Regions from separate parts of the Homo sapiens genome. Here region 2 is linked to region 1. Evidence: fine-mapped expression QTL. A gene starts in region 1. The other region holds a variant in brackets. All regions are shown on one strand. Distances are from middle to middle.

Region 1 (17,191 bases):
AGACTCCATCTCAAAAAAAGAAAAAGGCAATAACCAAAATGAAGCATAACTCTCATCTAATGAGACCCCTGAAACAGCAATGACTAGCTATAAAAAAAAATTGTAACACCTCTTCATGTTACATCCAGAAATGTATATAAGGGATGCTTCAAGACTCTAAAATGCCTCATCTTAGGACAGGTATTTATATCTAGCCAGAATGCTTTATTGGTGTTTTAAAAGTTAAGAAATGGCCGGGCGCGGTGGCTCACGCCTGTAATCCCAGCACTGTGGCAGGCCCAGACGGGCGGATCACGAGGTCAGGAGTTCAAGATCAGCCTGACCAACATGGTGAAACCCTGTCTCTACTAAAAATACAATTAGCCAGGTGTGGCAGTGCGCACCTGTAATCCCAGTTACTCAGGAGGCTAAGGCAGGAGAATCGCTTGACCCCAGGAGGCAGAGGTTGCAGTGAGCTGAGATTGCGCCACTGCACTCCAGCCTGGGCGACAGACTGTGACTCTGTCTCAAAAAAAAAAAAAAAAAAGTGAAGAATTATTCCAAGTTGATAGGTCAGTATTTCCACACATGTACAACTAATTACAATGCCAGGCTCTGATAATGCACTATTTTACCCTGGGCTATGAAAGATTGTCACAGTGAACATCAAGTCCCCCTCTCTATCATAGCAACTAAAATCTTCTATACTTTAAATCAAGTATACCACTTAGAAAAGTTCTTCTAGATAATCATATTTTAGTAGGAGGAACAAGACAATCTCCTATCATAATTAAAAGGCACAGTTCAGGGGGACAGTAATGTTTGAAAAATTGGCTTTCTTCAAACTTCACTGTACATTCTACTCTTCATTTACTCATCAGTTCAACAAAAATAAACAAAAGAAAAATCCAAGTCCCTCTCTCAAACCATTCCAACTAGTTTGATTTTTTTGAGGGAGTTTTACAAGAATTAACATTAACAGAAATGAAAATGAATGCTAACCAAAGTGAGAATACACATCATATACTGACACAATTTCAGAAACTTAGTAAACAAGCCTTAACACTTTAAGGAAAAAAACTGTTTCAAAAGTGATTTAATCAGTAAACCAATTTCAATATTTAGGCTATCAAAGGGGAAATGAATACTAATGTGGAAAAATATTAATAAGAAATGAAAATAGGTATACTGATAAAGCATAAAGTGCTAGCTAATAAAGTATCAACAGTGGCTGCTCTATCATCAGTCTCTCAAGAGAGACTCTTACTCTTCTTTGCCTAGCCAGTGCAGTATCTAGAACTCAAATGAGGTTCATAAGGGTTCGAACAAGTGACTTCTAGAAGAAGAATTTAAATGTTTTAATAATGTTAAGAAATCCAGGTACATCAAAAGACCTAAAAAGTCAAATCCAGAAGTTGTATTTAATGGAAAGATTACAATGTTAATAAAATCACAATAGCCACTAGTACATCTCAAGATGATCTGCCTGTGACACTTGTGACAGATAAAAACTAAAGGGAAAAAAAGCTACACCCCAAGACAAACTAAAAGTATATTATTATGAGCTGCTTTCTTAGTGCTAGAAAGTTTACCACCCAACAAAGCCTACCATCACAAGAAATATTACAAAAATTGTTATACTGTAAAATCCTCATCACCAAAAATATTACAAAATCTATTATACTGTAAAATTCTGATTAATAGGCCCAAAATAAATATCAAAGCTGAAAAACTAACATCCACTAGAATTTTAAATTACCTGCAGGGATTCCCTGCTTAATATAGATACAATATCATCTCATGTGAGAAACTTGCTATAACAAATAATTCAATTTCTTTGGAAATAAATCACAACTTCTTATTAAAAAGTATTTTCTTCTAAAAATCCTGTGAAACCCTTTAAAATGTTTCTTCCAATGAGCAAATACCTGATAATAGAAAAATTCTTATACATGGGGCTACTTAAAATATTGTAATTCATGTAATCCATGTTCTCATCATTATCCAGAAAAATGAAGAGAGAAATATACTTAAAGTTCCTCAGAAAAGTATTATTCAAAGTCTTAAACTAATTGCAGTATTTATTACGACTCGTTGGAGTCACATTTTTTGTCAAAAATGTTACACATTATGACAATGTCATAGAACAGTCTAAAAAGAAAATTTGGTACAGAATTACAGGGTAAAACTGAAATTACATTTTTTTCCAACCATAGCAACTCTAAGAACCTTGGGAAATGTCAAGACTTAAGATGCCTGATAGTTTTGTATAGGCTTAAATAAATATTTTCTCTCATACCTTTTTAAAAGCAGGCGGTGCTCTCAAAGGCAAGAAATTCCCTGTAGTTTCACATATATAGAGAACGTTCTTTGAATCAACAGTGCTAGGCATAGGGTTAACACAAGGACTACAGAGACTACAAATTGCTGGTTAACTAATTCAGTGATAGGTACTTGAAAATACCTACTCCCACTCCTAATACCATTATCTAGTTTCATGAACCAACTATTCAAGAGGCCCAAACTTAACCCATGCTATTACTTCACATTCTTCTTTTATAAAGAGAAAAATCTCTTTTCAAATAGGAAAGATACTCACAACTGGGCACTTCCACTGAAGCTTTTATTCTCAATCTTTCAAAACGAAAGCTTTCTATCACTGTCTTTCTAGATCTATCAAAACACTTAGCAGAAAAAACCTGCCGGGCACAGTGGCTCAAATCTGTAATCCCAGCACTTTGGGAGGCTGAAGCGGGCAGATTGCTTGAGCCCCAGGAGTTTGAAACCAGCCTGGGCAACATGGTGAAACCCCATCTCTACAAAAAAATACAAAAATTAGCTGGGCATGGTGGCACATGCCTGTATCTCCAGGTACTTGAGAGGCTGAGGCAGGGGGATCATTTGAGCCCAGGAGGCAGATTGCAGTGAGCCGAGATTGTGCTGCTGCACTCCAGCCTGGGACAGAGCAAGACTGTCTCAGAAAACAAAAACAAAACAAAGACCCGATTAGTATGTACTACATTCTTTTTCCAATAAAGCCATTAAAAAACTGAAGAAATTTATATTATTCTCCTTTACATCTCAGGTTATGTCTCCGTGGCAACCATAGTGAATAGTACCTTCCACACCTAAAGAGGGGCTAACCTCTAATCTAGCCATGTTTAGCCTATGTGTTGCTGTGCTCAAGTTAGGCTTTATTTTCCTACCTTAATAAAAAAGCCGGGAGCTGGGCGCAGTGGCTCACGTCTGTAATCCCAGCACTTTGGGAGGCTGAGACGGGCAGATCATGAGGCCAGAAGATCGAGACCATCCTGGCTAATACGGTGAAACCCCATCTCTACTAAAAATACAAAATATTAGCCAGGCATGGTGGCGGGCACCTGTAGTCCCAACTACTTGGTAGGCTGAGGCAGGAGAATGGCGTGAACCCGGGAGGCAGAGCTTGCAGTGAGCCGAGATTGTGCCACTGCACTCCAGCCTGGGGGACAGAGTGAGACTCCATCCAAAAAAAAAAAAAAAAAAGCCAGGGAGGCCAGGCGCGGTGGCTCACGCCTGTAATCCCAGCACTTTGGGAGGCTGAGGCAGGTGGATCATGAGGTGAGGAGTTCAAGACCAACCTGACCAACATGGTGAAACCCCATCTCTTCTAAAAATACAAAAATTAGCCGGGCGTGGTGGTGTGCGCCTGTAATCCCGGCTACTCAGGAGGCTGAGGCAGGAGAATCTCTTGAAACTAGGAGGTGGAGGTTGCAGTGAGCTGAGATTGCGCCACTGCACTCTAGCCTAGGCGACAGAGTGAGACTCCGTCTCAAAACAAACGAACAAAAAAAAAGCCGGCGGCACAGGCTCACACCTATAATCCCAGCACTGTGTGAGGCCAAGGCAGTTGGACCACCTGAAGTCAGGAGTTCAAGACCAGCCATGCCAACATGGTGAAACCCCATCTCTACTAAAAATACAAAACAAAATCAGCCAGGTGTGGTGGCGCACGCCTGTAATCCCAGCTACTCCAGAGGCTGAGGCTCGAGAATCGCTTGAACCCAGGAGATGGAGGTTGCAATGAGTTGAGATCATGCCACTGCACTCCAGCCTGAGTAAGACTTTGTCTCAAGAAAAAAAAAAAAAAAAAGCTCTATATTAGTAATGAATACAACTGCAGTTTTTAATGGCCATAAACTTACAGGATTCTTAAATGCATAAATCACAGAAATATGCAGTAACTGCAGCTACATACACAGTCCTAAATAGAATATCAGGTTTAAGACTCAAAGTACAAAGACCATTAAAAACATTTATTTGCCAAATCCAGTGAGAAACTAGGAGCAACTTAACAGCTGTCTAAATAACCACAAAATATTAAAAAATACTTCTGGCTCAATGTAAATGACATCTGAAGAGAGATGCTGCCTCCTCCAACAGACGTCTCATTTGTTCGCCTAGAACCATTTATATTTCATTGAAGCCAGCTGGTGTCTCCGTTTGCAGGCATGCATCAATGTCTGGTGAACAATCTATGTTCCTGTAAACCCTTCCCCATTCACAAGCTGCAGTTTCCATTTTTAATGGCAAGTTTCCAGCAAGTACAATGAGTTCTTACAAAGGAACTTAACTCTTCACAGAATTCAATTCCTAAGGCAGATTAATGGTACCAAGCCATAAACAATGTGAATTAATGTGCCTAACAAACTCACAAATACATTAACATTCACAGAAGGGTATCTTCAGACCATTCATTCACTACATAATGAAAACAATGTGCTGGATTTGATTGACGGTCTCTTATAATGTTGCAATATTTTGGTTTTATTAAAATTCTTTCTTGGGAATGTCATGACAATCTTTTGGCTAAATGGTAGTATTATGAGATGTTTCAAAAACCAATAGTAAAGCATACTTTGGTTTTCAACTAACTTACCAGGGTAAGTATTGATGCAGCTACTAGAGGCATTCATTTCACCAACGATATTCAATGCTTCTGCTCCCCCTCCCCTTACTTCCACTGATCACTTTTCCTTTTCCATACCCAGGGGTATTATAAACCTCACTGCTGACACCCCACATGAGGGTAAGCAAACTTTTTCTGTAAACACCAGAGAGCAAATATGGAGTTTTCGGGGCAATATACTGTGTGTGACAACTATTAAACTCTGCCATCGTCACCTGCAATGAACAATACTTAAAAAAAAAAAAAAAAGAATGAGCACAGCTGTGTTCCAATAAAATTTTATTTATGGACACTGAAATTTGAATTTCACATAATTCTCACGTGTCACAAAATAATTCTTTTGATTCTTTTCCAACCATTTAAAAAATGTAAAGAACATTCTTAGCTCTCAGGCTACACAAAAATATGGCTATACTTTGTCAACCATCCCTAGACCCTGAACAGCATTTCTGAATTAGTAACACTTAGGTGTCCTAAAAAACAGGTTTGGGATAGCTGTGTGTTAAGGAGTCCCTAAAAAATTCATAATGCCAATTAGCATAATAAAGGCTCTAAGCCTTGCGGTTAAGAAAGCAAGCTTAACTTCCGTCAGCTCAGCTAGTCCTTCCTTTTTCCTAGTATTAAGTTGCAACAGTTTGAAAAATATTTAAATAAGAATAGTCAAGTCAAACTTCCTGGGATGACTAAAATGATAGCTAAGGTTTAAAACAGACATCCAAGTTCCTGAAACTAATAAAGCCACAACATGACTTCAGCTATGCCATCAGAAACTGAAAGTATCTAGAGGAGAACAATGATAAAATAAAGTGTATACATGCTCTGAAAAAAAGTCACTTTAGTACTCTAGTTCTACATTAATTTGTATTATATTTGAACTCACAGATGTGAAAGGAAAACAAAGAGTTCCCACAAGTTTGCCAATCTCAATTTGGTAAGCCACTGTCTACTTCCAAACCTAACTACTCATTTTAGTTAATGACAGATGGGTATTTACTCCCATAAAGTTTAAGAATAATCGGTGTTAAAATAGGAAGCTAAAAATCAGGTGCATGAGAAAATTATTTCCAAGTTTACTAACATGAAAACTGGGAAGCTCTTTGATACCTGCACAACACTGCAGCTCCCATTATGACATTACAAAAAACATACAGGACCATACCCCAAATTGGCCATATAAACACAAAGTCAAACTAAATTACATTTAGAATGTCATTCAAAACTACCGTTTAAAAAATGTAATTTTAGCAAGTCAAAATTTCAATTTCAACTTGTTTTCTCAAGTAAACTTTTTGCGATAATATTCAAATTAGTTTGGAAATAACTTTTAGCAGACTCAGAATCAATAAGGATGTGATTTTAGGTTTCAGGATATAATCAAACTTCCAAAGTAGATGTCAAAAAAAAAACACCTTGAAGAAAATAGCAGTATTTTGGAAAGTGAATGTGAATCTCAATCAGCTGGCTTAAACAATTCCAATAATTCCAGTCGTTTTACTACAACAGTCCAATTAATTTAAACTTGAGATAATGTGGAGCCAACTGTATTAACCAACGCTACAGATATGCCAATGAAAAGTCGTTTACAAAGGATCACAATTCTGAATAAGTGTGCTTTAAAGGGGAGGAACATGGTATAGTCCCCAATTGTTCACATACATGCCCAAGATTATTTTGACATTGAGATATAGTACTTTAATTCCCAAACCTAGCACTGTATTAATTCACTCCCTCGACTGAAATGTATTGCTGGTTAGCTCCTTAATGACCTTATTTTGAAATGGCTTTATTAGTTAAGTACAGAATCCATTTCAATTTCCAATGATACCATTTCACTAAAAGACAAATTCCAAAAATGTCAACCACCAGTAGCTCATTCTTGACATTGGCTGTTTCCTTTTTTTTTTCCCAAAGTAAAGCCTAACAATTAATCAACAAATGCCTTTTCAATCTAATTAAAACACAGTTTAGTAAGGTCATTAAATAAATTTATCTAAGAATTTCCGTAAAAACTCACTACAACTCTAAAACAGTATGTCCTTAAATTAGACCAAATATTTAATAGCAAAAATGGTAGCTTGCATATTCGAGGGTCACTCCATGGATTTAGAAAATATTTTTAAATGTGACAAAAAAAAAAAAACACTAAAGTCAGTTTCAAATGGAAGTCACCAAATACAGAGGTATATACTTCGGTTTTTTAAGCTACTGATAACGAGACATTTAAATCAAGCTATGGAAAGGCTTTGTCTAAAGGGTGATATTATTACTAAAGGCTCACACAGAAATCTTTGCATGCTACACACAAAGGAAACATTTACACTTCTAGTCCACAAAAGCCTATCCTAGGATTGTGCCAGGGGCACACAAGGATTTCAAAGTACAGAAAAAACTGGGCATACACATGCCCTACAAAGCAGCCAAAAGACATTCCCCAGTCTCTCTCAGGAAATGTTTCAAGATGAAAAGCAAAAGTCTGAAGTCCCTTGGAATCTTGGGTTGATTTCTTCATTATTCTCAAGGCTAGGTTGTTTTCCCCCAGCATACTTTGTTGGGCAAAAATAAAACATTTCCAAATAAAAGCAACTCCTCAGCCCCAATTTTCAATGCAATATGCTTATTAAAAGTTCAACATTTCTCAAGGTCTAGACTTATAGTGTGATCATATTACAGTACTCGGGAAGAGCATTTTCTTTGTTGTTGACCCTGCTAGGGAAACAGGTCTTGACTCAGCCAAAGTGGCGTTCTTGTGGGTGATTAATGACAGGCCTAGATCTCGCCCTAGTGACATCCATCCCCCACCCCCCACCCCCACTATACTAAAATCAGCCGTGTCTGAACTGAAGGAGGGGCTGTAGCCTCGCCTCAAACCACCCAGTCCCAGAGTTAATAGCTGCAACCAATCGATTACGGCAAGCACACATCCAGATTGGGGTGAAATGTGACCCTTTCGCCTAAATTTACGAATAATATCGTCCTCTCTGATCATTTCCGCTGGGGCTCCAGCGACTACGGAAACAATTCCAATCATTCGGCCCAAAGAAAAAGATGTCCCTGTTCTACCCAATACGGGCAAGGCAAAGCCCCTACCCACCTCCAAACACTATCCCCTTGACATCAGCCCATTTCTATTGTGTCTTATTAGGTCCTCGGGCTACGAGGACCTAGTGAAAAACGTGGCTGCCCTACTACTTTGCTAAGAACAAGAACCACACAGTCCGGCACCCCCACCCCAGGGGCCGCATCCCACACCCCAGGACCCCTGTTCCCAGTTCTCTCCACTACCCCGGCGGCCGCGGGGCCGGGTCCCACCTGTGGTGAGGCGGGAGGAGACGTCGCCGAAGGGGGATGGCTCCATTCGGAGATACTTCTGCGGCGAGGCGGCCGCAGCGGAGAAGGAGGCGGCGGTGGCCGCGGCCGCCGACAACGGGGAGGCAGCGGCCGAGGTGGGCGCCGACAATGGCGCACATCGCCTGCGCTTCGGGGACGCCGGGCTCAACAGCGGGTCGAAATCCAGAGTCCTTTTCAGAGTGGCTCCGCACGCCATGGCCGGGGGCAGCTGAGGCGCCGGGCTCGGGTGGGGTCGGGGACGGGTGACGAAAGAAGAGGGTGAGGGAAGGGGTGAAGAGCGGGAACTCGAGGAGAGCCTACCCGACGGGCTCAGGAGCCAAGCGGGTCGCGGAGCGCCGGCTGTGGAAAGGAGAGCCGCTGCCGCCGCTGCCTCCGCGGCAGGGGCAGTGGCCAGGGACGGCCCGGGTGAGAGCGGGAGGGGCGGTGGCGGGCAGAAGCACACGCCAGTCGCGTCAGGGGGGTTCTTCCGCCTCCTCAGGCGCGGCTCCCCCGAGAGAGGCTCCGGCCGCCCCCGCCGTCCGCTCGAGCTTTGCGCCGCGCCTGAGGCGCTTCTGTGCTGAGACTAGATCCTTTCTGAAGTCGAAAACAGCACCGTGGGGTGTGAGGCTGGAACGCGGCTCCTAATACGCCCGAGTACGGTCAGTAGCTTGCGAGCGGCGATCGATGCAGAGAGATTGCGAGGTAGCTGCCGCAGCAGGAACCCAAGCGAACACGTCCAACCGCTTCCCCTCCCTCGTAGAACTCTCCCACCCGCCGCCGGCCCCAATATGGCGTCAATAACAACGCCGCCGATTCAAATCCGGCGGCCTCAGAGCGCTTGCGCACGGGGGCGGGCCAAACCGGGGATGCATTTTGGGAGTTGTAGTTTTTAGGTACCGGGAGGAATCGGCTTGAAAGGCGGGAAGGGAGGAGTCACAGAAACTACGACTTCCGTCATGCAAGGCGCGCGATTCCGAGTTCCGGGTTGGAATTTAAATCCCCCTACACAGCTTGAGTGTAAGAGGAACTAAGCAAAAGAGAAAAAAAGAGAAGGTTCTGAGACAGTGGGAGATGGGAAAGCGAACCCGTGGCAAAAGCAGGCTAAGCGACATAGAAATCTTTTAAGATTCTCCGTATAGTTGCTCCCACAGTGATTTCAGATCTGGGAAATATAATAAACCAATCTCTAGTCAAAGTTAGCTTAATTTCGGTAGCGACAGTACCCAAAACAAGACCTTTCACATGGAGAGGATAGGAGATAATGAGATTATGAAACCTATTTAGGACTGGCAGACAGAACAACAGTAATAGTATCAGGTTACAGGATCCTTGATTCAACTCGATGCTCTACCCTTCGGAGGTAGCTGCTTCATCCACTAATGAAATTCTGTAAAGCCAGCTTTGCTTCTGTAAATGAATAGGACTTGAACGACTTACAGAATCAAATTGTTTTGCGTTGGGTAAAAAGCAAGTGGTATCAGACATTGCATTACTTCTGTTGAATATTGGTGCATATATTGTGAACTTTGTTACAAAACTAATCAAAAGACAGTGAAATGTTTAGGTAATAGATATTGGATGGATCCATTTTGTAAGCGGAAGGGGAAAAAAGTGTTTCTAGAAGTTGTACTTTTAGTCACATACCTAAAATAAGAATCAAATACAGCGCTAATTTAGAAAGTGATCTGTGTAGCCGGGCATGGTGACTCACGCCTGTTATCCCAGCACTTTGGGAGGCCGAGGCAGGCGGATCTTCCTGAGGTCAGGAGTTCGAGACCAGCCTGGTCAAAATGGTGAAACCCCGTCTCTACTAAAAATACAAAATTAGCCGAGCGTGGTGGCGCGCGCCTGTAGTCGCAGCTACTCGGGAGGCTAAGACAGGAGAATCATTTGAACCCGGGAGGCGAAGGTTGCAGTGAGCCGAGATGTTGCCACTGCACTCCAGCCTGGGTGATAGAGCGAGTCTCTGTCTGAAAAAAATGAAAAGAAAAGAAAATGATGCCGGGCGCGGTGGCTAACGCCTGTAATCCCAGCACTGGGAGGCCGAGGCAGGCGGATCACGAGGTCAGGAGTTCGAGACCAGCCTGTTCAACATGGTGATACCCTGTCTCTACTAAAAATAAAAAAAATTAGCCGGGCGTGGTGGCGCACACCTATAGTCCCAGCTACTCAGGAGGCTGAGGCAGAAGAATCGCTTGAACCCGGGAGGCGGAGGTTGCAGTGAGCCAAGATCAAGCTACTGCACTCCAGCCTGGGTGACAGAGCTAGACTTCGTCTCAAAAAAAAAAAAAAAAAAAAAAAGTGATATATGTAGAAACTATCACCAGTGCAATATGAAACAATTTTGTGAATGCCAACTGTCAAATGATTATAAATACTGATTTCCAGTGCTCATGTATTCTTCTTTATTCAGTAACAGATGTTTTATAGCCATTTTGTCTATTATTTTTAAACCATATTTAGAAGTAGTTCAATATATTCTTTTTTATAGACAATTTTATAGAATTGTCCAGTGCTTCAGAGATCAGCAGTCCTGATCACACTGTGTCAACAAGTAAGCCCTTCTAGTTTTAATTTAGGATATTTGGAAATATCCTACATTTCCTACATTTGGAAAATCTTTTGAAAAAGATAAGCATTTAATGAAACAGCAGCTTAACTAAGACACCTACTAGGTAAATTTCTAGTAAATTCTAAACACTTGGTAATATTTTCTGAAATTAAGATTTGCCCATAAGTTATAAAACCTACATTTGAAATGTGATGTTGTGAGTTAAATTCCCTATGTTTGAGGGAATTCAAGGACTTCAAAATTCATATGAAGTCCTAACCTCCAGTACCTTAGAATATGACTTTACTTAGGAATAGGATTATTTCAAATGTAATTAGCTAAATGTAGTAGGATGGGCCCCTAATCCAATATGACTGGTATTCTTATACAAAAAAGGAAATTTGGGCCAGGTGCGGTGGCTCACACCTGTAATCCCAGCACTTTGGAAGGCCGAGGTGGGAGGATCACTTGAGGCCAGGAGTTTGAGGCTAGCCTGGGCAATGATAAGAAACCTCATCTCTACAAAAATTTTTAAAAAATTAACTAGGCATGGTGGTGGTCACCTGTGGTCCCAGCTACTCGGGGCAGCTGAGGTGAGAGGATTGCATGAGCCCAGAAGGTTGAGGCTGCAGTAAGCTGTAATCACACCACCACACTCCGGCCAGGGTGTCATAGCCAGACCCTGTCTCAAAAAAAAAAAAAAAAAAAAGAAAAGAAAAAAAGGCCAGGGTGAAGGGGAGACTGGGTGGGGGTGGGAATTTGAACCCAGGCATGGGCCCAAGGGAATTTTGACCCACATGAACATGAACATGAAAATAGAGATTAGGGTGATGCTTCTACAAGCCAAGGAATGCCAAAGATTGCCAGCAAAACACCAGAAGCTAGGAGAGAAGTTGTTCTCCCTCAGTCCTCAGAAGGAACCAACCCTGAAAACACCTTCTCAGAGTTGTATTCTCTAGACCATGAGACAATAAATTTCTGTAGGTTAAGCCATCCAGTTTGTGGTACTTTGTTATGGCAACTGTAAGAAACTAATACAGAGAGGATTGTGGTTATCAGGCTATCATTTGAAATATACCAGAATGCCTAGAAAATGAGGAAAGTATTTTTTTGTTTAATTGTGGAGACAGAGGTCTAAGTTGCCGAGGATGGTCTCAAACTCCTGGCCTCAAGTGATCCTCCCACTAGCATTACAGGCTAGCATTACAGACTAGCATTACAGGCCGAGCCACTGCACCCAGTCAGCAAAGTGTTGTTGTACTTAAAGGTGGTGGGGGATATCTGGTAAACTTGATAGTTTAGTCATAATAGTTGCCTGTGTGGTCACCGCTGCACAGTATATTTGCAAAAGGCTGTCAAGATTAAACAGTGACAGGGCTGGGGTGCCTCCCCTTCTACCAATGACTCAGGAAGCTACTTCAGAAACTAAAAAGACAAGGGAGACCCTTCCCTATTCACCTATGTCTTTGCTTAGGCTCTCTGCTCCACACTTCTTGCCTGACTACTTATATTTTAAGACTCAAGCCAGGCATTAACTCCTCCAGGAAGCCCTCCGCAGTGTTTCAAAGCCAAGTTAGTTTTATAGCCTCACAGAGAAAGAGACACCTATCTGCATATTTTCATCATTATCCTCACCACACTGCAATAAAATTCTGTTCATGAATCTGCCTCTCCTGTCATTGTGTTAGCTCCTTACCAATAGTATAATACCTTGCACGCTTCAGTAAATGTCCACTGAATATTTCTTAAACATTTTTTATCACACTATCCCCAGTAGCCCACATTATCCTTGTTCCTTTATAGATCTGCTAAAATACTATAGCAACCCTTTTAGAGTAGAAGGAAGCTGTTGAAAAAAAAAAACCTACAAAAGTATTTATTAGGCTAAACTTGAAAATAAAGATAATACTTAAAAGCCGTAAGTCATGACATAGTATATTTTACTTTTATTTTTTAGAGACAGGGACTTGGTCTGTCACCCAGGCTGGGGTGCAGTGACACAATCAAGGCACACTGCTGCCTCGACCTCCTGGACTCAAGTGATCCTCCTGCCTCAGCCTCCCAAGTAGCTAGGACTACAACCTTGCACTACCATACCCAGCTAATTTTTAAATTTTTTGTAGAGACAGGGTCTCAGTACATTGCCCAGGTTGGTCTTGAACTCCAGGCCTGAAGCCATCCTCCCACCTCGGCTTCCCAAAGTGCTGGGATTACAAGTGTAAGCCACCACAATATATTTGAAAAATGAATTTATTTTGTTGATCAAGAAGAAAAAGACAGCAGACCTTAAGATGGGAGACGGGGGGAAGGAAGTACTAAAGAGGAAAAAGAGCTGAGGGCAGTGACTCATGCCTGTAGTCCCAGCACTTTGGGAGGCCAAGGCAGGGAGGAGGTCAGGAGTTCGAGACCAGCCTGGGCAACATAGCAAGACCCCCATATCTACAAAAAATAAAAATGTTTAAAAAAAGAAAAAGAAAAAAGGAAAGAAAAAATAAGAAAAAGAAAACTATATTTAACACATTAATAAGTTGAATCAGGTCACATGAATCTAAATATACTGTACAGCTAATGGCTCCAGTGACCTACACAGACCAGAATTGCTCTTGTTGTAACTAAAAAGCCTGTAACAAGTTTTAAAGGTTTAACATATTTAGAATAGTTTTACCATGACCTAGCAAGTATTTTCTGATTTGTACAATCTCAGAAGCCTCTGAAGAAAATTAAACTATTTTACCAAGATACTGGTCTTGCTTGGTATTAGACTTTCCTAACACCTCCCAAAATATTCTCCAGGATCTGATTCTGATGAGTCATTCTTTGACTAAAGCCAATAAAAGTAGACATAGCTGGGTAACATAAGACCTCATCATCCTGAGCCTGAAGATTGTCTGCTTATATTAAATCATTTTCAAACAATTTTTTTCTGATGTCAAATAAAGATAAATGCAAATATATAAGGTGTGGGGAGGTGTTTGCTGACTTCTCATACTGAGTTTGAATAATCATAGGCTCAGCATTAGGAACGGCAGTTCTAATTCAGGAGCCACTTCAAATCTATATTCAGAACAAGGATTGTCTAGGGCAGAAAAATTGTTTAATCGTTGTGTAAATGAGTGCAGTTAGGGAAGAAGAGACATTGTAATTCCTTCTGCATAAGATTTTGCAAGCTGGCCCAAATCTCTTCTAAGCACCATATTTGGAATACACAGTACTTTCTGTTGTAGATATGATACTGACTAATTTTTCAGTTTTCATAATTTTGGATGTGGTCATTATTTTGAGTCGATTGGGTAGATCACAGAGTAAGCAGAACCATATATCTGCCAGTTATTTCAAGAGGTCACCTAGTGCGATCCAGTCTCAAGGCAAGATTACCTGTTAACTACTCAAGCCAGACCAGTATCTGACTCTCCCCAAAGATTGTCAAGAACATTCAGCATCCCGTTCAAGTGTAAAAAACACAATTGCAAATTATTTTATCAATTCAGTTGGCGCAAAAGTAATTACAGTTTTTGCCATTACTTTTAATTACTTTTGCACCAACCTAATATAGCTTTCACCTCTTCATCAGCGACTGAGTTCTCCTTATACAATGCCCTATGCACTCCAGGAAATAAACCATGATTCACTTAGCCTGAGGAACGTTGAAAAGAAATTACAGGATAATCTCTGGCAGTCACATTAAGATATTATGAAGTCCTTATTTTTATTTTTTTTTTTTTATTTTTTATTTATTTTTTTTTTTTTTTTGAGACGGAGTCTCGCTCTGTCGCCCAGGCTGGAGTGCAGTGGCGGGATCTCGGCTCATTGCAAGCTCCACCTCCCGGGTTCACGCCATTCTCCTGCCTCAGCCTCCCAAGTAGCTGGGACTACAGGCGCCCGCCACTACGCCCGGCTAATTTTTTGTATTTTTAGTAGAGACGGGGTTTCACCGTTTTTAGCCGGGATGGTCTCGATCTCCTGACCTCGTGATCCGCCCGCCTCGGCCTCCCAAAGTGCTGGGATTACAGGCGTGAGCCACCGCGCCCGGCCGAAGTCCTTATTTTTAAATTTGCATACTTTTCTTAAGTATGTGCCCTCAAGTACCTGCACCCTTCTTCAAAAACTGTTTACTCTTAACTTGACAGAAAATTCAAATGTGCTTGGGGATCTTATTTTCCAGTCCAAACCAACTGGAAGAATATACTAGGAGAGAGAAAAGAGAATTAAAGGTGCTATACACTGGCTACAACAAGCAGTAGAATCATTGGATAGCAATAAAAGAGACTGTCAAAAATAACTACAGAATTGAAAAAGAACAACAACGTTGAGACACCTCCCTGTCAGGACAATTAGCCCTACCGCGGCTCAACTGCAGCTGAGGCTCCCTTGTATTATTATAATATCATATATAACAGTGGTAGGGTTGCCAGATTTAACAAAAATATAAGATGCCCAAATTCAAATTCAGTTTGAATTTCAGATTAACAAGGAATAATTTGTTAGTATAAATATGTCACAGGCTGGAATGCAGTGGCCCATGCCTGTGACCCCAACACTTTGGGAGACTGAGGCAAGAGTATTGCTTGCGCCAGGAGTTTCAGACCAGCCTGGGCAATATAGTGAGACCCTATCTCTATTTTTTAAGAAAGTCACAAATATTGCATGTATTTAGCTGAAATCCAGATTTTACTGGGTACCCTGTATTTTATCTGGCAACCCTAAGTAAGGAGCACAAGACAGTGACCATGAATCATCAAGAAAAGCACAAACTATGTTTAGTATGCAGTTCAAAAAATGTGTAACAAACATGATATTAGAAAATATTCTGCCCGGCCATCAGAGAAATGCAAATCAAAACCACAATGAGATACCATCTCACACCAGTTAGAATGGCAATCATTAAAAAGTCAGGAAACAACAGGTGCTGGAGAGGATATGGAGAAATAGGAACACTTTTACACTGTTGGTGGGACTGTAAACTAGTTCAACCATTGTGGAAGACAGTGTGGCGATTCCTCAGGGATCTAGAACTAGAAATACCATTTGACCCAGCCATCCCATTTCTGGGTATATACCCAAAGGATTATAAGTCATGCTGCTATAAAGACACATACACACGTATGTTTATTGCAGCACCATTCACAATAGCAAAGTCTTGGAAGCAAGCCAAATGTCCAACAATGATAGACTGGATTAAGAAAATGTGGCACATATACACCTTGGAATACTATGCAGCCATAAAAAAGGATGAGTTCATGTCCTTTGTAGGGACATGGATGAAGCTGGAAACCATCATTCTTAGCAAACTATCGCAAGGACAAAAAACCAAACACCGTATGTTCTCACTCATAGGTGGGAATTGAACAGTGAGAACACTTGGACACAGGAAGGGGAACATCACACACCGGGGCCTGTTGTGGGGTGGGGGGAGGGTGGAGGGATAGCATTAGGAGATATACCTAATATAAATGACGAGTTAATGGGTGCAGCACACCAACATGGCACATGTATACATATGTAACAAGCCTGCATGTTGTGCACATGTACCCTAAAACTTAAAGTATAATTTTAAAAAATAATAATAATAATAAAAGAAAATATCCTGGCTGGGTGCAGTAGTTCACACCTGTAATCCCAGCACTTTGGGAGGCCGAGGCGGGCAGATCACCTGAGGTCGGGAGTTCGAGACCAGCCTGACGAACATGGAGAAACCCTGTCTCTACTAAAAACACAAAATTAGCCAAGCGTGGTGGCGCATGCCTGTAATCCCAGCTATTCAGGAGGCTGAGGCAGGAGAATCACTTGAACCTGGGAGGCAGAGGTTGTGGTGAGCAGAGATCATGCCATTGCACTCCAGCCTAGGCAACAAGAGCGAAACTCCATCTCAAAAAAAAAAAAAGAAAGAAAAGAAAAAGAAAATATCCCATAGAAGGTATTTAAGATTCAGATAATTTAAAGTTTCAGTTGTTTGGAAAGTTAAATACATGAAATACTTTGGACCATGCATGTTCTATTCACTGCAGAGTGCCAGCTATAAACTAAACAGTAAACATTTGATGAATAATGAAAAGCTTCACACACTATCTCCCCATTGGTGGGGGACCTCAAGCCCCTAAAGGTTGTCTCTAGCCCCGCCTCATCATTTAGTTTTAGAATTCCCTCACACCTTCTACTGCAGCTGTCTGTTCCGTTGTCTTGCTTAAGTCCAAGCCTGACTCAGAATTGGTGTCACTGTCTGTGTCAGGCTCTCGTTCCCTCTTGTGCCTTTTGTCCTGTGGTTCCATGATGCCACCACAAACCTTCTCTGATGAGGCTTTTTGAGAGAATGAGATGATGCCTGCACTTCCCCAATATTTTGGGCTTCCTCTGCAAGCCCATTGTTATAAGGGTTAGCCAGGTGCATGGTG
Region 2 (8,000 bases), 170 kb before region 1:
TACATATGGACAAATATTTACAAATTGTAACTCACCTGCAGGTTGAAACATCAATGATAACTTTACTATATTATTTCCAGAAAGCTATTAAAGTCTCATGAAAGCAATAAAAATTGGTGAATAAACTATGAAAAAATAAGGCTTCTAAACCCTTACAATGTTATTATCAAAACATCCGGACAGCAGTATTTGGATAGGAAAAAATGATTTTATTGCTGGAGGACACATTGGCTTATACCCACTAGATACTACCAACAAATGGGACAGGGCATTAAACATCTCTCAAGGTAAAAACGTTTCACCTTTCATAGATGATCTATGTTAATTACTGGAATGACAGACTTAAATAAATAAATACTGCTAAATAAAGTTAAAATTACCTTTTTTTTTCCCCCTAGAAAAGAGTTAACTAGCAGGTCTGATACTGTTATATTTAAAACATCCTGCTTGCAAGGTTGGCCACTGGCTGGCATCTATTAACTTAGATTTTTGGGAATGTCTCCACCAACTTAACTGATAAAAGTGGTCATTGTGCCTACACTGTGGATGCAAACAGTACAGCTTAGGCTGAACTTCTGCTTTCCTTCTGGGAGTTTGGGATTTAGGACATTCTAAGCAGAGGGTACCTACATGACCAACTCTCAATAAAAACCTTGGACACAGGGTATCTAATGAACTTTTGCCAGTGGACATTTCACATGTATTCTCATAATTTGCTGCTGGAAGTATGTGCACCTTGTGTGACTCCACTGGGAAAATTTGGGAGTCTGGAAAGCCTGGTTTCCTCTGGACTTTACCCCATATATGCCTTTTCCCTCTGCTGATTTTGCTTTGTATCCCTTCACTGTAATAAATCATAGCCACAAGTAAGACTATGCTGAGTTCTGTGAGTCCTCTGCGTGAATCACAGAATCGGGGGGAGGAGTGGTCTTAGGATACCTGACACATCATAAAAAGGTGATGTTTATGTAGTCCTATTAGTAAGTCCAGAACAACACATACAATGTCAGTTAGAAAACAAAGAAGACTTTGGTAAAGTATGGGAAAACAAAAAGGGTCCCCATAAGATAGTAAACTGCGGACTTCTTGACTTTTGAATGACACAGCCATTGACAACTGCTTAACGGTCCAGTATACAGATGTTAAAAACATAAATATATATTCACAAGTGGTTTCTGATTCTATCTCACACACATACATACATGTGCACACAAGTTATAAGCAAACACATGCAAAATGTCTTTATTTTCACAAAAGAGTTTAGTTTCTTTTTTTTTTCATAAAGCCTTTCTTCAGGGTGAAGTTTCTTTGTTTTTAAATCTAGGACTTTAAACTCAAATAACCAAACATTTAAAAATCTATTATGCATTATGATATGACTATTTTAGAAAAAACTTCACCAGAATCTTCTCTTTCTTAAAAAATAGAAATAATTAAAACAAAAAGCCCTTAAAACGTGAATATTCTTAGTATTTCCGCAATATGTACTTATAAAACAAACATTAGTGAAAATCAACTGACACTATCAAAGAGAAGAGCTTTAATAAGCACTTCCCAATATACCTATAAATGCACAATATAAAACTAAACAGTTACCATGTACCTTTTTAATTAACCCTTGGAAAGTACGCATTTTGAAGATATCTTCCTTTTAAGGCTAAATTTAGACACAAAGAGATAAAAAGGCAATTTTAAATTTGGGCTTCATAATAAGGCAGCATGGCTTAGTAAAGTTTTTGAGGATGGAAACACAATTTTTCTCTTAGAAGAAAACACAAAAACCAGTTGTGTTTCCTTTAGGGAATAAACTAAATGTCTCAGACTTCCTTAAAAAAAATTAACATTCCCTTTTCACTATTTCTAGATGTTGGGCCTGCCAAATAGCGTAACATTTTATTTTGAATTTAACTCAGATAATTACAGTAAGCTCTTGGGCTGATCTGCCCAAATATAAAGAACTAAGCATGAAAATTAAAAGTAGTATGATAAGCCTTTCTTATCCCTTTAAATTTGATCCTAGAATACCATTAGCCACATGGGCACAGTTTAACTCCTTGATGTGGGGCTCTAACCCCACTTCTAGCCATGCTTATCTTAGAAATACTGAGAATAACTGCTAAGGATGGTTAGCAAAACTTAGAAACCACAGACCCTTTTTTCATATATTTATGTCATCTTAAAATGCACTGAATTTTTACCTAGTTTAGAAAAGAACATGTAAAAATATTCATGATTATAATTTGAACAACTTCATTATGTTTAATGCTGTTTCACTGATCAGAAATTTCTTAGCTGCTAGTTGATTCCGAACATGAAATGAAAAATTAAAGACATTCAAATGTGTTTATATAATTAAAATTGAATGTATCAATACTGCAAACAGTTAATAATAAAGCCAAAATGTGGTAGGTAAAAAAATAACTAACTTGAGCTATTTCATGAGTTATCAAATTTCTCCTCCTTAATACATTAGTAGTAGGATATAAACTGTATTTCACCTTCCATTAATCTTTTCATATTTAGAATCTCCTACTTTTACTCTATGTATATACATAACCACATTCATTATATCTTACATCTTTATTCAGGGATGATAATTATTAACTCCTTGTAGAGCACCACACACAAGCACCTAATAAATGTTAACATTTCTCATGCTGATAAAAGTATTTTTTGCACATTTCAATGGTGTCAGATATTTACTCAGCTATTAATGTGTACTTTGTTCTTGCTAGGTATTTCAAAACTCATTCTAAGAGGAAGACTAAGAGGACAATGACACACTGTAGTGCTGTCCCAAATAAGCAGAGAGAGAGTAGAAAAGCAAGCAGTGTTGGGAAGGGACAGCAGGGAGCAATGGCCAAGTGGAGAAACTGCCAGGATAGAGGAAAGGAGAATTACCTGGAATGGGGAGGAGATGGGGAAGACTTCCAGAAGAGCAGAAGCTAGGAAGCCCCTGGGGTGGTGCAGGCCCACAGTGGGAAATGGTTCACGGTGTGTCTACATAGCGATCTTGTCTCTAGACCTGTGGACAGGGCAAGGACCACCAGCTAATGTTTGTCACACAAGAAGAGCTGCATGCCTCCAAGCATCACACAGGCTGGGATACTAAACATGTAAGAGACCAGTGTGCACTGAAGACAAGAAGAGTCCTCTAGGACTGTCCTAGGAGACACATAAGAGCCTGGGGAACTTTGCATGATTTAGTAGGTGGGAAATTCAATGACTTACACTGACTCTTACAAGTGATAGCTGGAATCAGATTTTCTTATCATTTAAAAACTATTTCTTACATATAAATGTTATTAAGGAACAAAATTCATACTAGCCATAACAGTAACATTCCCTGGAAAAAGAAATGTAACTTAAAACAATGATGAAATCTTGAACGCAATTTTTCATAAAATAAAAACTTCAACTGCATAAATATCCCTACATATGATGAGAATTTAGTCTTGAATTATTTACTTAAAGTTGAGAAATTGGAGACTCTAAAGTTAGGAAAAACATTGTGTCTTGAGGAATAGATACTAATTCCATGTTTTTAAAAATGAGAGCAAGTAAACATTATCACTCATTGAATCGGTGCTTTGATCTTGTCCTATTTAAAAAAATTTTTTTTTGCCTACTGATATGGGGAAGCTCAGGGTCAAAACTATTACGTAAATTATCTAGTGATACACTAACCCCTCACTATTTTTCTTTTATTAAATGCCCATCACTGTAATTACCTTAAATCCTGCTAGAAAGGGGCAAGGTAGAAATACTGAAATAGAACCTTTGGAGGCCATTTTGAACTTAAAGAAATTTTTATACTATTTGTGTTATTATGTAACTGTTTT[GT/G]TTTTTTTTTTTTTTTTTGAGACAGAGTCTCGCTCTGTTGCCCAGGCTGGAGTGCAGTGGTGTGATCTCAGCTCACTGCAACCTCCACCTCCTGGGTTCAAGCGATTCTCGTCCCTCGGCCTCCTGAGTAGCTGGGATTACAAGCATGCATCACCATGCCCAGCTAATTATTTGTATTTTTTTTTTTAAGTAGAGATGCAGTTTTGCCACGTTGCTGAGGCTGGTCTCAAACTTTTGAGCTCAGGCAATCCACCTGCCTCAGCCTCCCAAAGTGCTAGGATTGCAGGTGTGAGCCACTGCACCTGGCCTATGTAACCTTTTTTAATGTCAGTGCTAGGATACAGGCTAATCCATATTTTATTGGCATGATATTTATCTCTTATAAGAGGCTGCCCTTACATTTCATAAGAATGGCTATGGTTACAAAAGCCATATTAATAGGCAATATGCAATGAGTCAAGTTCTATTAATAAAACCTTCTATAGCAAAAAAAAAGGTTAATATGCTTAGAGATACTGTTAGATAATAAAGTCTATTCAAATAATTTAAATCTAAAAGGAAGCCTGATAAGTTACCTTTAAAAGTATTATTTAAATAGGTAAAAGTAAATGATGACACCCTCATATCCATGATTCAGATTTAACACTTGTTAACTTTTACCATAAGAAATTACTTTTTGCCTGGGCGTGGTGGCTCACACCTGTAATCCCAGCATTTTGTGAGGCCAAGGTGGGCGGATCACAAGGTCAGGAGTTTGAGACCAGCCTGGCCAACATGGTGAAACCCCGTCTCTAGCAAAAATACAAAAAAATTAGCTGGGCGTGGTAGTGCACACCTGTAATCCCAGCTACTCAGGAGGCTGAGGCAGGAGAATCATTTGAACCCGGGAGGCAGAGGTTGCAGTGAGCTGAGATCACGCCACTGCACTCCAGCCTGGGCAACAGGGCAAGACCCCATCACGAAAAAAAAAAAAAGAAAGAAAAAAAAAGAAATTACTTTTCAATATAAGTGGAAAGGCTTTTTGATATATTGTCTAAAGCTTATTGCAAATGTTTTCCTGAATCACTAATGTGAATTCTAAATAAAAAAAATATATTAGTTATTTAACAGCCAATTCACAAGGGAAGAGGAACTATAACAAAACTACTTCCCTGTTTTGTAACCAAAAAAACCAAATTAGAATAATTAAAGAAAAAGTTTCAAATGCTTGCCAACAAAATCCTAGGTCCCACGTACAAAACAGCTAGATGTCATGGGAAAAGAATGCTATAAGGTACAGAGAAAAACCACTAGTGAAGCATATGCACCAAAATGGAAATGCAATAAATGACTGTGGGTGTTAAATATTTTCATCAAAGAAATTCTGAAACTATCATACAATATCATTTCCAAGCTAGCTGAGAAACTGAATATACTAATACTGATTATAGTGCAATTTAGAGAATACTGATCATAGTTCAATTTAGAGGAAGGCAGGCCATAAAATCTGCTACTGGATGGCCTATGCCAAATTCAAAACAAATATGCCAGAAGGTTGAAAGTGCCAAAACTAAACTACTAATTGTGTCCCTGGTATAGCAACTCAAGGGATGAAAGAAAGGAAAATTCTATGTACATAATTAAACCAATGGAAATCAATGGTTCATAAAGCCATTCTATAGTGGGGGTGTGGGGACATTCACTGCATAGAGCACTCAGGAGCCAGACTACCTGTGCCGGAATCCTGGGTTTGGCCTGTGGTTTCCTCTGCAGTAAACTATGTTAACAAAGTAAGTTAAATTCTGACAAATGGTAATTAGTGTATCCTATAATAGTTACTTATTTCCTGGACAAACAATACATTTTATATTCCACAAATTATATATAATTAGAAAAGGGGGCAAAAGAGAACTATAAAAGCAAATTCATTCAGGCATTTACTGCAAGCCATAATATTTAGGGTTGTGGATAAGGAAGGTAAGGAAGACATGGTCCTTCCTCTCAAAGAGCTCACTACTAACTACAACTTGATATGGAAAAAAAACAAGGGTTCCATCAAAGCTTTGAGAAAACAGATTTTCACAAATAAGAAAGAGTAAATGCAGATTATCTTAAAGTTTTCCTTCGAATAAATCAGCCAACATTATTTACCAATACACCAAGCACTTTCCAAGCATAGAATCACGATCTCTGACTTTCTGGTCACCTTTCTGGTGACCAGAAATAACGATGGGGCAGAGTCTCTGTATTACCACCTACGCTATTTGTGACATTGCAGGGCAAGCAAAGGCATCTTTCAATTATTAAATAAATTGAGTTGTTGACATTCAGATTTTCTTTTAGAAACAGAATAACATCAACATTTGCTTAAAGCTCAAAAAAATTCCTCATTTATGCTAACAGTTGTTTTTGAAAGTAATCCAAAGTGACAAATGTAATTTTAAAATGAAAACAGAGTCTATAAAATTTGCATATATAATAACCTGTAGGCTGCCATTTTAGGCTTTGCATATTTTCTGTCCTGCAAAAGGAGAAGGAAAAGAGCAACTGAATACTCTAATGGTCTTGTCGTCTATTACAAATAGCAAAGTGGGTGTATCTTGCCTTCTTTTGTCTTTAAATGCAGTTTCCCAGTGAATCTATTCGGCAAAAGAACACTAATGAAAGCAACACCATTATTATTCGACTTTTTAGTTATTCACAGAAGTACCTTATTGCCCTTATTCCTTCCATATGTGTACCCATCAGTAAATAACCTCTAACATAGATGTTGATCTTCCACTATTTTTGAGTCTCTAAAGGCAGGAAATTATATTAAACTGCATAGAAAGAAATATATTCTTAGGTTTCTGTGGAGTTTGAAGACAGATTCCCCTGAAATATTTAAAATATTGTACAGCCTCAGCAACAGTGAGACTTCACCTCCACAAAAAAACCCACAAAACCTACACCTATATATGGCTAGGCACAGTGGCTCATGTCTGTAATTCCAATACTTTGGGAGGCTGAGGTGGGAGGATCACTTGAAGCTAGGAGTTTGAGACCTGCCTGGACAGCATAGCAAGACCCTATTGTTATTTAAAAAATTAAAAAATAGGTTGGGTGTGGTGGCTCACACCTATAATCCCAGCACTTTGGGAGTTTGAGGCAGGAGGACTGTTTGAGCCCAAGAGTTTGAGACCAGCCTGGGCAACATAGGGAGACCCTGTCTCTATAAAAAATCAAAAAATTAGTTGGGTGTGCTGGTGTGTGCTTGTAGTCCTAGCTACTTGGGTTGCTGAGGTGGGAGAATCACCTGAGCCTGGGAGGTCAAGGCTGCAGTGAGCCGTGATTGTGCCACTATATTCCAGGCTGGGCAACAGAGTAAGATCCTGTCTCACATAAATAAATAAATAAATAAATGAATAAATAAATAAATAAAAGATAAAAATAAAATGTCATAGAAGACAAAGGTTTACTATTTGCAAGATTAAATAAAAACTTTTGAGGTGGGGAAGAAGAAAGATAAAAAGAATAACTCTCACATGTCATGCTGCACTCTAAATCAATGACACAAGGTCTCCAAGCAGGTATTTGTATTTTCTGCAACATGGGGTGTCTCTGTGTAAAAAGTGAAGTAGAGGTTCCCCTTCAAAGACACTTTCCTCCCCGTCTAATTAAGGACAAATAGTGACTTCTCTTAGAAGTAAAATTTATTCAAAGACCTGTCATAACATCCTTAAATATCTGCTAGCCGTAATAAAGAAATCAATATACTTTGTGTTCTTAGCTCCTACAATTTAGCCTAAATATCTGCCTTGGCATGCTTACATTGGTCCAAGCAAGCATTAGGTGACAGCCTGTTCCTCTTCCTTATTTGGAGGTGTTTTTACCTTTCTCAGCATTTCACAAGTTACTTCCTGCTTCCTTTGTTCTCCCCTGCCTTTGCCTCTTTTGAAAAGTTAAAGTTGCTAGCCAATCGGGACAAATACAGAATGTGAGGTTCCGTTCCAGCCAATGGAAACCAGACACAGCAGTAAGGTGGATGTGTCAAGTTATAAATGACCCTGTCTCCTTTGTTCGGTATACTCTCGTGGCAAAACTGCTGGCGAGTGTACCCTTTCTGCAGAGAGTAAAAATGGCCTTGCTGAGATAATTAAATTTATGTTCAAGTGCTATTTCTTTGTGGCACCGGGGAA

The links. PIP is the estimated chance that this variant, and not a neighbour inherited with it, causes the effect.
Region 2: its variant is fine-mapped to the expression of AKIRIN2 in whole blood (INTERVAL, PIP 0.96).

What each region holds. Positions count from the first base shown.
Region 1 is chr6:87,693,217-87,710,407 of GRCh38, forward strand. It overlaps AKIRIN2 (akirin 2), which reads right to left and starts at 9,017. Exons shown (of 5, transcript NM_018064.4): 1 at 8,234-9,017. The coding sequence starts at 8,468. RefSeq lists enhancers at 5,273-5,792, 8,909-8,968, 9,279-9,588, 12,414-12,533, 16,986-17,125 and silencers at 8,189-8,398, 8,579-8,748.
Region 2 is chr6:87,531,834-87,539,833 of GRCh38, forward strand. All of the region lies in intron 8 of RARS2 (arginyl-tRNA synthetase 2, mitochondrial), which reads right to left. Among named protein-coding and RNA genes, the nearest start is that of RARS2, 54 kb to the right of the region's middle. The variant GT/G (reference allele first, on the strand shown) is at 3,843.